Linked DNA regions of Homo sapiens: regions 1, 3 and 4 are each linked to region 2. Evidence: fine-mapped expression QTL. A gene starts in region 2. Each other region holds a variant in brackets. All regions are shown on one strand. Distances are between the middles of the regions. Region 1 overlaps FEM1B (fem-1 homolog B). Region 2 holds the start of CALML4 (calmodulin like 4). Region 3 overlaps PIAS1 (protein inhibitor of activated STAT 1). Region 4 has its middle 77 kb from the start of RNU6-1.

The links. PIP is the estimated chance that this variant, and not a neighbour inherited with it, causes the effect. A credible set is the group of variants that fine-mapping cannot tell apart.
Region 1: its variant is the best candidate, but not a certain one, in a credible set for the expression of CALML4 in lung (TOPMed, PIP 0.51).
Region 3: its variant is the best candidate, but not a certain one, in a credible set for the expression of CALML4 in cerebellar hemisphere (GTEx, PIP 0.52).
Region 4: its variant is the best candidate, but not a certain one, in a credible set for the expression of CALML4 in monocytes (CEDAR, PIP 0.59).

The regions. Positions count from the first base shown.
Region 1 is chr15:68,284,458-68,286,957 of GRCh38, reverse strand. All of the region lies in intron 1 of FEM1B (fem-1 homolog B), which reads right to left. Among named protein-coding and RNA genes, the nearest start is that of FEM1B, 8.0 kb to the right of the region's middle. RefSeq lists an enhancer at 969-1,470. The variant C/GC (reference allele first, on the strand shown) is at 1,173.
Region 2 is chr15:68,203,931-68,206,693 of GRCh38, reverse strand. It overlaps CALML4 (calmodulin like 4), which reads left to right and starts at 1,362. Exons shown (of 5, transcript NM_033429.3): 1 at 1,362-1,449; 2 at 1,543-1,573. The coding sequence starts at 1,447. RefSeq lists an enhancer at 369-663.
Region 3 is chr15:68,096,211-68,098,944 of GRCh38, reverse strand. The region is part of intron 2 of PIAS1 (protein inhibitor of activated STAT 1); the gene reads right to left. Among named protein-coding and RNA genes, the nearest start is that of PIAS1, 43 kb to the right of the region's middle. The variant C/T (reference allele first, on the strand shown) is at 1,461.
Region 4 is chr15:67,915,419-67,917,918 of GRCh38, reverse strand. No RefSeq gene overlaps it. Among named protein-coding and RNA genes, the nearest start is that of RNU6-1, 77 kb to the right of the region's middle. The variant G/A (reference allele first, on the strand shown) is at 1,345.

The DNA of each region.
Region 1 (2,500 bases), 80 kb before region 2:
TGAGATTGCACCATTGCAATCCAGCCTGGGTGACAAGAGCAAAACTCCATCTCAAAAAAAAGAATGAATCAAGAAAATAAGACACTACATCAGTGATGCCAACTATATGTTTTGCAAACAATTCAGTTTAATTAAAATTCACTTTTGTTATTTTTTTGTTATGTTTTTATTGTCATGATTATGTAAAGTTCAATAAACATTTATTTATTGTCAAAAAATAACACTTGCAACAGCATCAGAAAATACCAATAAATAGTAATAAATCTAATGAAAAATGCACAAGACTTCTACACTGAAAACTACAAAACACTCCTGAGATAAGTAAATCTAAATAAATGGGAAAATATTCCATGTTCATGATCCAGAAGACTCTATAATGTTAAGATGTCGATTCTCCCTCAAAATGATCTATAGATTCGATATAAACCAAATGAAAATCCTAGCAGGTTGTGTGGTATATGTGTGTGTGTGTGTGTGTGTGTGAGTCCAAGAGGTCGAGGCTACAATGAGCCATGATCAGGCCACTGCACTCTTGCCTGAGCAACAGTGCGAGAACCTCTCTCTAAAATGGGAAGGAGAGAAAGAAAGAACTGACAGGCCAATTCAAAAAAGAATATGGAAATGCAAACAACCAAGATAATCTTCAAGAAAAATAAAGTTAGAGGACAAACTACAGTAATTAAAATAAGTGCTGGCACGGGGACAGAATAATATTATCAACAGACCAAAAAAAAAAAAAACTCCAGAAATAGATTCACACATACAGAATCCCTTGATTTCTGACAAAGGCTCCAGTGAAATTCAGGTAGAAAACATGGTCTTTTTAATAAATAGTTATGGAGCAACAAGATAATCTATATGGAAAATAATTAACCTTGATTCCTACCTCACAGTACATACAAAAATTAGAGACACAGTATAGACCTATAGTGTGAAAAGCTTCTCAAAATAAAAAAAAAGCCATAGACTATTCTTAATGAATTTAGTGTTGATCACAATTTCTGGAACAGAATACCAAAAAAAAAAAAAAGCATTAACCGTTAAAGAAAAAGAAAGTATTTATTGGATTTCATTAAAACCAGAACTTCCATTCATCAAAAAACATTATAAACAAAGCGATTAAGTGGCCAGGTGCAGTGGCTCACACCTGTAATCCCAGCACTGCGGGGGGG[C/GC]TAAGAAGAGGACTGTTTGAACCTAAGAGTTCAAGACCAGCCTGCGCGACACAGCAAGATCCTGTCTCTACTCAATTTAAGAAAAAAAAAAAAAGACTGAACAAGTATACTTCACAAAAGATATCCAAATGGCCCATAAGCATATGAAAAGATGCTCAAGATAATTAGTTAACAGGGAAATGCAAATTAAAACCAGTTTACCAATATACACACCCAGCAGAATAGCTAAATTTAACAAGACTGACAGGGCAATAATAAGTGTTGAGCAAGATGTGGCAACTGACATTCTCATTGCTGGTGGAAACTGCAAGTAGGAATGTAATTTGGTTGTTGAACTTTGGGGAAACTATTTGGCAATATCTGTTAGTTAAACATACACCTACCTGATGACCCAGCAATTCCACTCCTTGATATATACCAGATAACTAAATGCAAATGTCCACCAAACAACATACACAAATGTTCACTGCAGTTTTATTCATAACAGTCAAACACTGGAAACAACCAAAATATTAATTAATAGGAAATGGATAAACTGTAGTATATTTATGCAACGGAATACCACACATCATTAAAAAAAGAAACTACTGATACATGCAAGTACATGGATGAATCTCAAAGACACTGTGTTAAGCGAAAAAAGCCAAACAAAAAGAGTACATACTACATAATTCTGCTTATAGGAAGTTCAAGTACAGGCAAAACTAATCTGTGGTGACAGAAGCTGTATTAGTCCATTTTCACGCTGCTGATAAAGGCATACCCGAAACTGGGCAACTTACAAAAGAAAGAGGTTTACTGGACTTACAGTTCCACATGGGTGGGGAGGCTTCACAATCATGGCAGAAGGCAAGGAGCAGCAAGTCACATCTTACATGGATGGCAGCAGGCAAAGTGAGCTTGTGCAGGGAATCTCCCCCTTACAATCATCAGATCCCGTGACACTTACTATCAAGAGAACAGCACGGGAAAGACCTGCTTCCATGATTCAGTTGCCTCCCACCAGGTCCCTCCCACAACACGTGGGAATTCAAGATAAGATTTGGGTGGGACATAGCCAAACCCTATCAGAAGTCAAAATAATCATTACCTCTGGCAAGGAAAGGGAGGAAACTGAGAAGGGGCACAAGGGAAACTTTTAGAGTGATAAAGTGTTCTACACATTGATCTAGAGAGTGACTAGATGGATGTAAACATATTAAAAATTCATTGTACAGTATTGTACACAAGATTCATGTACTTTACTAGATATGATATACCTCCACTAAAAAAACAGATATAATTAAAAACAAAAATAGGCACAAATGACTTCAAAGAAAAATAGTTTA
Region 2 (2,763 bases):
TTCCAGAGTCCCAAGTGACTTTCCTTGATGTCCTTCTCTCCATCCTCTGCACAGAGGCAGCCTTCCCTCCTCTTATCCCTGCCATGGGGTTTGGGAGGGGGAGCCTCAAACTCTGACAGGGAGGAGTCGGAGTCCCCAGCTAAAATTCTCTGGGTCTAGAAACAGGTGTAAAGCGATTCTGGGGATGTGATTTGGGAGAAAAGCACACTTTCCACACAGAGGCGGTCAGGAAAGGAGCGGGGAGGGGAGAGTGGGGCACAGGCAGCGCCTCCCGTCTATGCGCCTGTGTGCAAAGTGGCACAATGCCCCCCTTCCTATTGGCAGTGCAGCCCCTGGCCAGCAACCACTCGCACCTGGGCTGGGGGCCTTTGTGTAGGGCACACCTGTGCAGCCACACCTACTTGTAGAGCCTCATAGACTCAGCTGTGGACAAAAGCCTCACGCCCCAAACAGGGAAATGGGATCTCAAGGGGAAGAAGCTGGGGAGGCCTCACACCCTGCCCCCATTTCCTCCTATGTGGGGGAGGGGAGCAGCACGAACTCCTGAAGACTTGGGAGCGTCAGCAGCTTCTGCGGAAGGGGTGGGGCTGAGGGTGGAGAGAGGAAGGGAAGGAAGAAAAGGGGAGCCTTCCTGGCCAGGGTAACCGGCACTAAGAGGCCTCACTCCAAGCCCCCGAGGAGCCTGTGGTGGGGCTGGAGACCCGGCTCAGGCCCCTCCACCACCCTTAAAGTCCTCAGAAGGTGGGAACTGAACTGGCACAGGATGGGAACCGGCTGTGCGCTGGCCACTTGATTTTGCCAGCTGCCCTGTAATTCAGCTGGTGAGGAAACTGAGGCACAGACTGAGGTAGAATGATTCGCCAGTCACTCAGCAAGTCAGCAGACGGGGAGGACTGAATCCCAGCCTGAGAGCACCGAAGCTTGTATCCCTGCAATACCGAGCCCCAAGCCTGCGAGCCCCGGTGCCCATCTCTGAGTTAGGCCGTCTTGGAAGGGTTCCCTTCCTCCTACAAGATGGTGTGTGAGGAGCCTTCAATACGACCCGGGGTGTAAAGTGTCCAACTCTAGTAGGGGCCTGATGGCATCCCCGCCGAGTCCCAGGAGAGAGAGAGAAGACCCCTTCCTGGAGTCCAGGGCTCCCGGGAAGAAACACTGGCATTTGTCCCTTTGCTTCGGCTTCTGGAGGCAGAGACTCTGAGCCCAGGGAGAGCCTTCTGCAGCCCCATTTCCTCAAAAATCCAACCTGCCCAGGTGGCGGGTCATGAGCTGTGCTCAGGAAGCTGGAATCTGACCCTGGTGGCGTCGGGCCCAGTCTCCATGGCAGCCGAGCATTTATTACCCGGGCCTCCACCCAGCTTGGCAGACTTTAGACTTGAGGCTGGAGGAAAGGGAACTGAACGCGGTTCTGGGAGCAGCAAGCCCACGGGTAGCAGCCGAGGCCCCAGAATGGTGAGTGTGAGGGTCTGTGTCGGCCTGGCCAGGGCTGGGGGCGTGAACCTCAGGTGGAGCCCTCCCCTGACTGTTTTCCTTTCTCTGCTGCAGGCCAAGTTTCTTTCCCAAGACCAAATTAATGGTAGGTTGGGTTTGTTCTTTGATTAGCAACTCAGCAAAATATGGGTCTCATTAGGCAATTTGCTCTGCTCATGTTTTCTTGGTGGGAAGGAAGGTGGCTGTGGGAGAGCTGGGCCCACCCAGGGCCAAGAGCTGCGGGGAGGCTGCTGTTGGCGGGGTGGGGGTTGGGGGTAAGCCTCCAAAATAGACATGTGGCTTTATACTTGTCAGTGTGACTTACAAGCCAGGGCGCTAAGACAGAACTTACTAGGTTTCCCTCCAGAACCTGACCAGTTGGATTTGGGGACTGAGGGGACTGGGGATGGAGAGAGAGACCATTAAAGGTATGGCTGGCAGCAGGGAAAGAGGAGGGGCTTTGTAATTGAGACAGAACAGAGGCCAGGTCTGCACTCTCTGGCAGGATGCGTCTACTCTCTGCGCCTCAGTCTCCCTATCTGTAAAATGGAGGGTCCACTGAGCCCCCTTTGCCCTGGCATCAAGCCTGGTTTGGGCGTGAGCACTTTATTCCCTGGGTCCCCTACTCTGCCAGCCCTCGACCAGGCTTCAGTTTCACACCGTGCAGGGTTCTATTTCCAGAAGGCCAAGAGCAAAGAGTTGCGTTACAAAGAACTTGGGGGCCCAGACCTGAGCCAGGGGAGCCTCATGGCTGCAGCCCCCCTGCACCTGGCAGGAGAGGCCCAGGAGGCACAGCCAGCTGCTGCTTGAGGTTGTGACCCTGAAACCTGTCCCAACAGTGGACGTCAATGGGCCTGAGAGTCCCCCGAGGCATCCCATTCCTCCAGGTCTTTGCTGAAACATCGCCTTCTCAGTGAGTCCTTCGCTGACCACTGGAGATAAAATTACAGGCACCTTGGGCCCTTGTGATCCAGGGTAGGGTCCTGAGAGCCCAGCCAAGTGGGGTTAGGGTTACCTGGGCAGGAGTTCCAGAGTTCTGGGTATTCTGAGCTTGGTCCAGAGGGGCAGGAATTGTGAGCTCCAGGTGGGCACCTCCACGTAGAACCCTGGAACTCTTTATCCCAAGAGGAGGGCCAGGGCAGGAGCAGGGACTTTTAAAACACAGGGCCCGGGGCAGTGCCCTCTTGTCCAGGTCTAACGGTGATAATGAATGGTGGACTGAGGGCTGGAGTCCAGCCTTCAGCCTCAGCATCCTCCCACCCATGCCTGGTTTTGAGGCTCACTGACCCTCCCTCC
Region 3 (2,734 bases), 110 kb after region 2:
AATTTGGCAACATCTACAAAAAATATTTAGATGCACTTTCTATTTCTAGGAATTATAAAACTACTGGCTATATTTAGACAAGTGCATAGTGATATATATCACAGAATATTCTCTACAGCAATGTTTTCAACAGCAAGAAACTACCCAAATGTTGACCAACAGGGGAATATTTAATAACACAGAATCCAACGAATCTATTGCCTACTAAGTAGCTGCTAAAAAAGAATGAGGCAAATATGTTTGTTTGTAGGTGCAGCAGCTACCCCAGTAAAAATATAAAAAGAACTGAAAGCAACACCTGTGACTGAAATAAGGGTGAAAGAGGGACTTCCTTTTCATTGCAAACCCTTTTGTAACTTTTGAGTTTTGTACATCAATGTATTATCTATTTAAAAATTTAAAAACAATCAAAAAATTAAGTACAATTGACCCTTGAACAACACAGATTTTAACTGTGTGGGTCCATTTATACACAGATTTTCTTCCACCTCTGTCACCTCTTAGACAGCAAGATGAAAATCCTCCTATTACTCCTCCCCTTTAGCCTACTTAATGCAAACATAACAAGTATGAAAACCTTTATAATGATCCACTTAATAGTAAATATATTTTCTTTCCTTATGATTTTCTTAGTAACAGTTTCTTTTCTCTAGCTTACTTTGCTGTAAGAATACAGTACACAATACATACATATACAAAATACGTGTTAATCAACTGTTTATGTTATTGGTAAGGCTTCTGGTAAACAATAGGTTATAGTAAAGTTTTGGAGGAGTCAAAAGTTACATGTGAATTTTTGACTGTGTGTGTTGCAAAGGTGGCATCCCAATCCCCTTGTTGTTCAAGGGTCAACTATACAATAATTCCATGTTAGCAGAAAAGTATACAATTAGACCAGTGGAACAGAGTAAGATCTAGAATAATATTCAAAGGAAGTTTTGGGAAAAAAATAAAATTAGAGCCCTATACTCATGTAAACAAAAATAAAATTCAGAATTGATTAAAAAACCCCACAAATGTCAGAAGTGGAAAATGTTATTTACTCCTCTAGGAGGTAGCATAGGTCATCTGGAATCAGACAAAATCCAACAGCTACTGGTTTAATATATGAAAAGCAATCAGTGTTAGACACCATATTAATAGAATAATGGGAAAAACTATACAATCATCTCATCAGATGTTGAAAAAGCATTTAATAAATTACAACATGCAGGCTGGGCACGGTGGCTCACACCTGTAATCCCAGCACTTTGGGAGGCCGAGGCAGGTAGATCACCTGAGCTCAGGAGTTCGACACCAGCCTGGCCAATGTGGGGAAACCCCGCATTTAATAAAAATACAAAAATTAGATGGGCGTGGTGGTGCGTGCCTGTAGTCCCAGCTACTTGGGAGGCTGAGGCAGAAGAATCACTTGAACTGAGGAGGCAGAGGTTGCAGTGAACTGAGATCATGCCATTGCA[C/T]TCCAGCCTGGGTGACAAGAGTAAAACTCCGTCTCAAAAATAAATAAATAAATTAATTAATTAATTACAACATGCTTTTATAATTAAAAAACTCAACAGGAAGGGCATCTATGAAAGAATCCACAGCTAACATTATACTTAATGGTGAAAGACAAGATGCTTTTCTTAAGGAACAAGAAAAGAATATCTACACTTCAAATTCAATAGCATATGAAAAGGGTTTTACATAATGATCAAGTGGGGTTTATTCCTGGAATGCAAGGATGGTTCAGTGTATGAAATTCAATATAATACACCACATTAACAGAATGAAAAAAACTACATGATCATCTGAATGGATGTAGAAAAGACATTTGACAAGTTTCAACAACATTTCATGATAAAAAACACTCAACTAGGAATGGAAGGAAACTATCTCAACATAATGAAGACCATATATGAAAAACCCACCACTAACATCACATTCAATGGTGAATGACTGAAAGCTTTTCCTCTAAGATCAGGAACAAGGCAATTCTTGCCACTTCTACTCAACATAGTACTAGAAGTACTAGCCAGAGCAATTACACACACACAAAAAAATGAAAGGCATTCAAATTTAAAAAGAAGTAAAATTAATCTCTGTTCACAGATGACATGACGTATGTAGAAAACTCTAAAAGTTTCATGCAAAAGAAAAAAAATATTAGAACTAAGAAACAAACAGGAAAACTGCAGGATACAAAATCGACACACAAAAAATGAGTCCTGTTTCCATACACAAACAATGAACACACTGAAAAGGAACTTAACAATTCAATTTTCAGTAGCATCAAGAAGGATAAAATACTTAGGAATAAACTTGACCAAAGAGGCAAAAGACATGTACACTGAAAACTACAAAACATTTCTGAAAGAAATTAAAAATATAAAAAAAAGGATAATGCTCATGAATCAAAAACAATATTGTTTAAATGTCCATAATACTCAAAGCAATCTACAGATTTAATGTAATCTTTATCAAAATCTCAATGGTATCTTTTGCAAAAATAGTAAAAAAAAAAAAAATCCTAAAGTTGATATAAAATCTCAAGGGACTCCCAAAAGCAAAAACAATCTTGAAAAAGAACAAAACTGCAAGCCTCACACTTCCTTATTTCAAAACGTATTACAAAGCTACAGTAATCAAAACAGTGTGGTCTTGACATAAAGACATACAGACCAATGGAACAGAATAGTGAGCCCAGAAACAAACCCTCACACATACATAGCCAAATGATCTCTGACAAGGCTGT
Region 4 (2,500 bases), 290 kb after region 2:
AAGCTATGAGAGGTATGCAAAATTTACTTGGCTCAGAGAGACCTGGGACTTCAGTCAGGCCCCTACTCTCATCCCTCACCCCCACCTCTGCATCCCGCCCATGCCCTGGGGGCAATTGTTTAAAGGCATTTTGTTCCTGACTAGCTGGCCTCACCCATTATCTTCATGTTCCTAGAATTTGTGATACAAAGAACAATGTATAACCAATTAATAGCTTATGTTACTTTAATGTAAATTCTTGTTAAACAACTTAGGAACTGCCTCTTCTTTTTTTCCCTTTAAAAACCCATTTGTAGGTGCTGCTAATTAGAATGTATATTCAGGGCAACTTGAATCCATGTTCCTGGGTGGCCATCCTCAAGCTTTGGGCTCAAATGAACTCTATATTTAATCATACTTTCTGAATATTATTTAAGGTTGACAAGAATAAGGGAGATAAATATATACAGAACTAACCAAAGGAGTTAAAAGTGTTTGTTCTGGGCTGCTGTCTTTTGTCTCTGAATATGAGTTGGCTTTTTAAATTACGTGCGTTACTACCTCTGATAAAAAATAAGAAATTCTTATTAAGGAGTTGTCCTGATTCCCCTGGAGGGACACAGGGGGAAGCACTGGTCTGACATCAGGGTTCATGCCTGAGCCTTGCCCTGCTGTCTGCTGCTCTTTGCCAGCTGTCACCATCCCATCTGAATGGGGCTGAGTGACTCAGAGCTGCCTGGCCAGGGTTTTATGGGAACTGGACATAGGATTTTAGATACCTAAATTGGGAGGAACCACTCTGGGGCAGCCTCCTGTTTCAAGCCATCATTTGGTAGTGCCAGTATCATAAATGAGTGGCCGTATATAGCGCAGGGGTTTAAGTGGTGAATGAGCTCTACTGTTAGACTACCTAGCTTCATAAAACCCAGGCTCTCCCTCTAATTAACTAGGACCTGGGCAAGATATTTAATTTCTCTGTGCCTCAGTTTGTCATGGATAAATGGGACTTACAGTGCCTCCTTATAGGACTGTAGCGAGCTTAATTCAACTAACACATATAAAAACACTTATCACAGTGGCAGGCACATATAAGCCTAATGAATGTTAGCTTTTATTCTCATTTTCACAGATGACGTAAGTGAGGTAAGTGAGGTTCAGAGAGGGAAAGTAGCATGCACAATGTCAAACAGCCAACTGGAGACAGAGCTAGGCCTAGTGCCTGGGACTTTTCTGTCTCTCTGCAATACTCTTTCTCCTTGTACCACCCCAAGTTGCTTAGATATACATAAAGCATCTCTGGAGAGATACACAGAAAAATGAACAGTAGTGGTTACCTGTGGGCAGATAGAGACCAGAAGAATTGTG[G/A]AAGAGTAGAAGAGAAGACATCTTTTCACTGGAATTTAAAATTTTCAAGCCACATGACTGTATTATTAACACCAAATAAGGAGACAAATAGATGGATTAATTAAATAAATGGGATTGACTGGGTACAGTGGTCCACACCTGTAATCCTAGCACTTTGAGAGGCCAAGACAGGAGGATCACTTGAGCTTAGGAGCTCAAGACCAGCCTGAGAAACATAGTGAGATCTCATCTTTTTTTTTTTTTTTTTTTTTTTTCAAAAAAGGTAAATAAATGGGACTAATAATGCCTTTCTCATGGTGGAGAACAAATGAGATAACAGAAGTGAAAAGACTTCTACACTAAGTGACAACCAGATGTGAAGGGTTATGACTAGTAATTATGGTGCTTTTTAGTAAAAGCAAACTTTGCTCTGGGTTTATGGAACAAACTGTAAGAAAGGACATAAATTTCAGGCTGTTCATTAGCCAAGTTCTCCTCTTTGAGATGAAGTAGGTTTCCTTGGCCACAGGTGAAGCCATCTTGTACTGCAATGGAAATTTCCATCTTGGCATCCACAAATGAGAGCTTCCCTTCCCCCACACATACTGGCTCTCCTGAGCCCAACACATTGCATCCAGGCCGTCAGTTGGAGAACTCTTCTGGAAAACATGATTAAGGCTGCACAAACTGGGGGGTTTATTGGGTATGACAGTGAGGGCCACGGTTTGTTTTTCAAGGGAGGGAGCTAAGTCCCAGAAATAGCTGAGCTCGAGATGGCAGGCGGCTGGCAAAGGCAGGAGGCTCCAGGGCAACGCTCCCAGGCCATGTTGACTTAGGACCGGCTGCCTGAGCATTGTAAACAATTGCAGAAATGATTTCCTACCCTGGCAGAAGTCTTGTTTGGACAAGGGATCCCCCCTCCTTCTTTAAAAGGCAGTTTTATCATTTGTTTGCAAAAATGTTCAATCCCCTCTTTCTTTTCTTGTTCCCTCTGTGGCTCTGGTCTCCCCCAGAGCCAGATGAAAAATCTTTGTGTTTCTTTAATGTTAACCAAACCCCCACTCCTTTTTTAAACTGTTCCAGGTCTGCTGGACAAATACTTCCCAGCAACAGGACTAACAAGCGTCTGTTAAGGATTTTGTTAGGCTGTAGTCTTTAGCTGAAGTGACTTAATTTT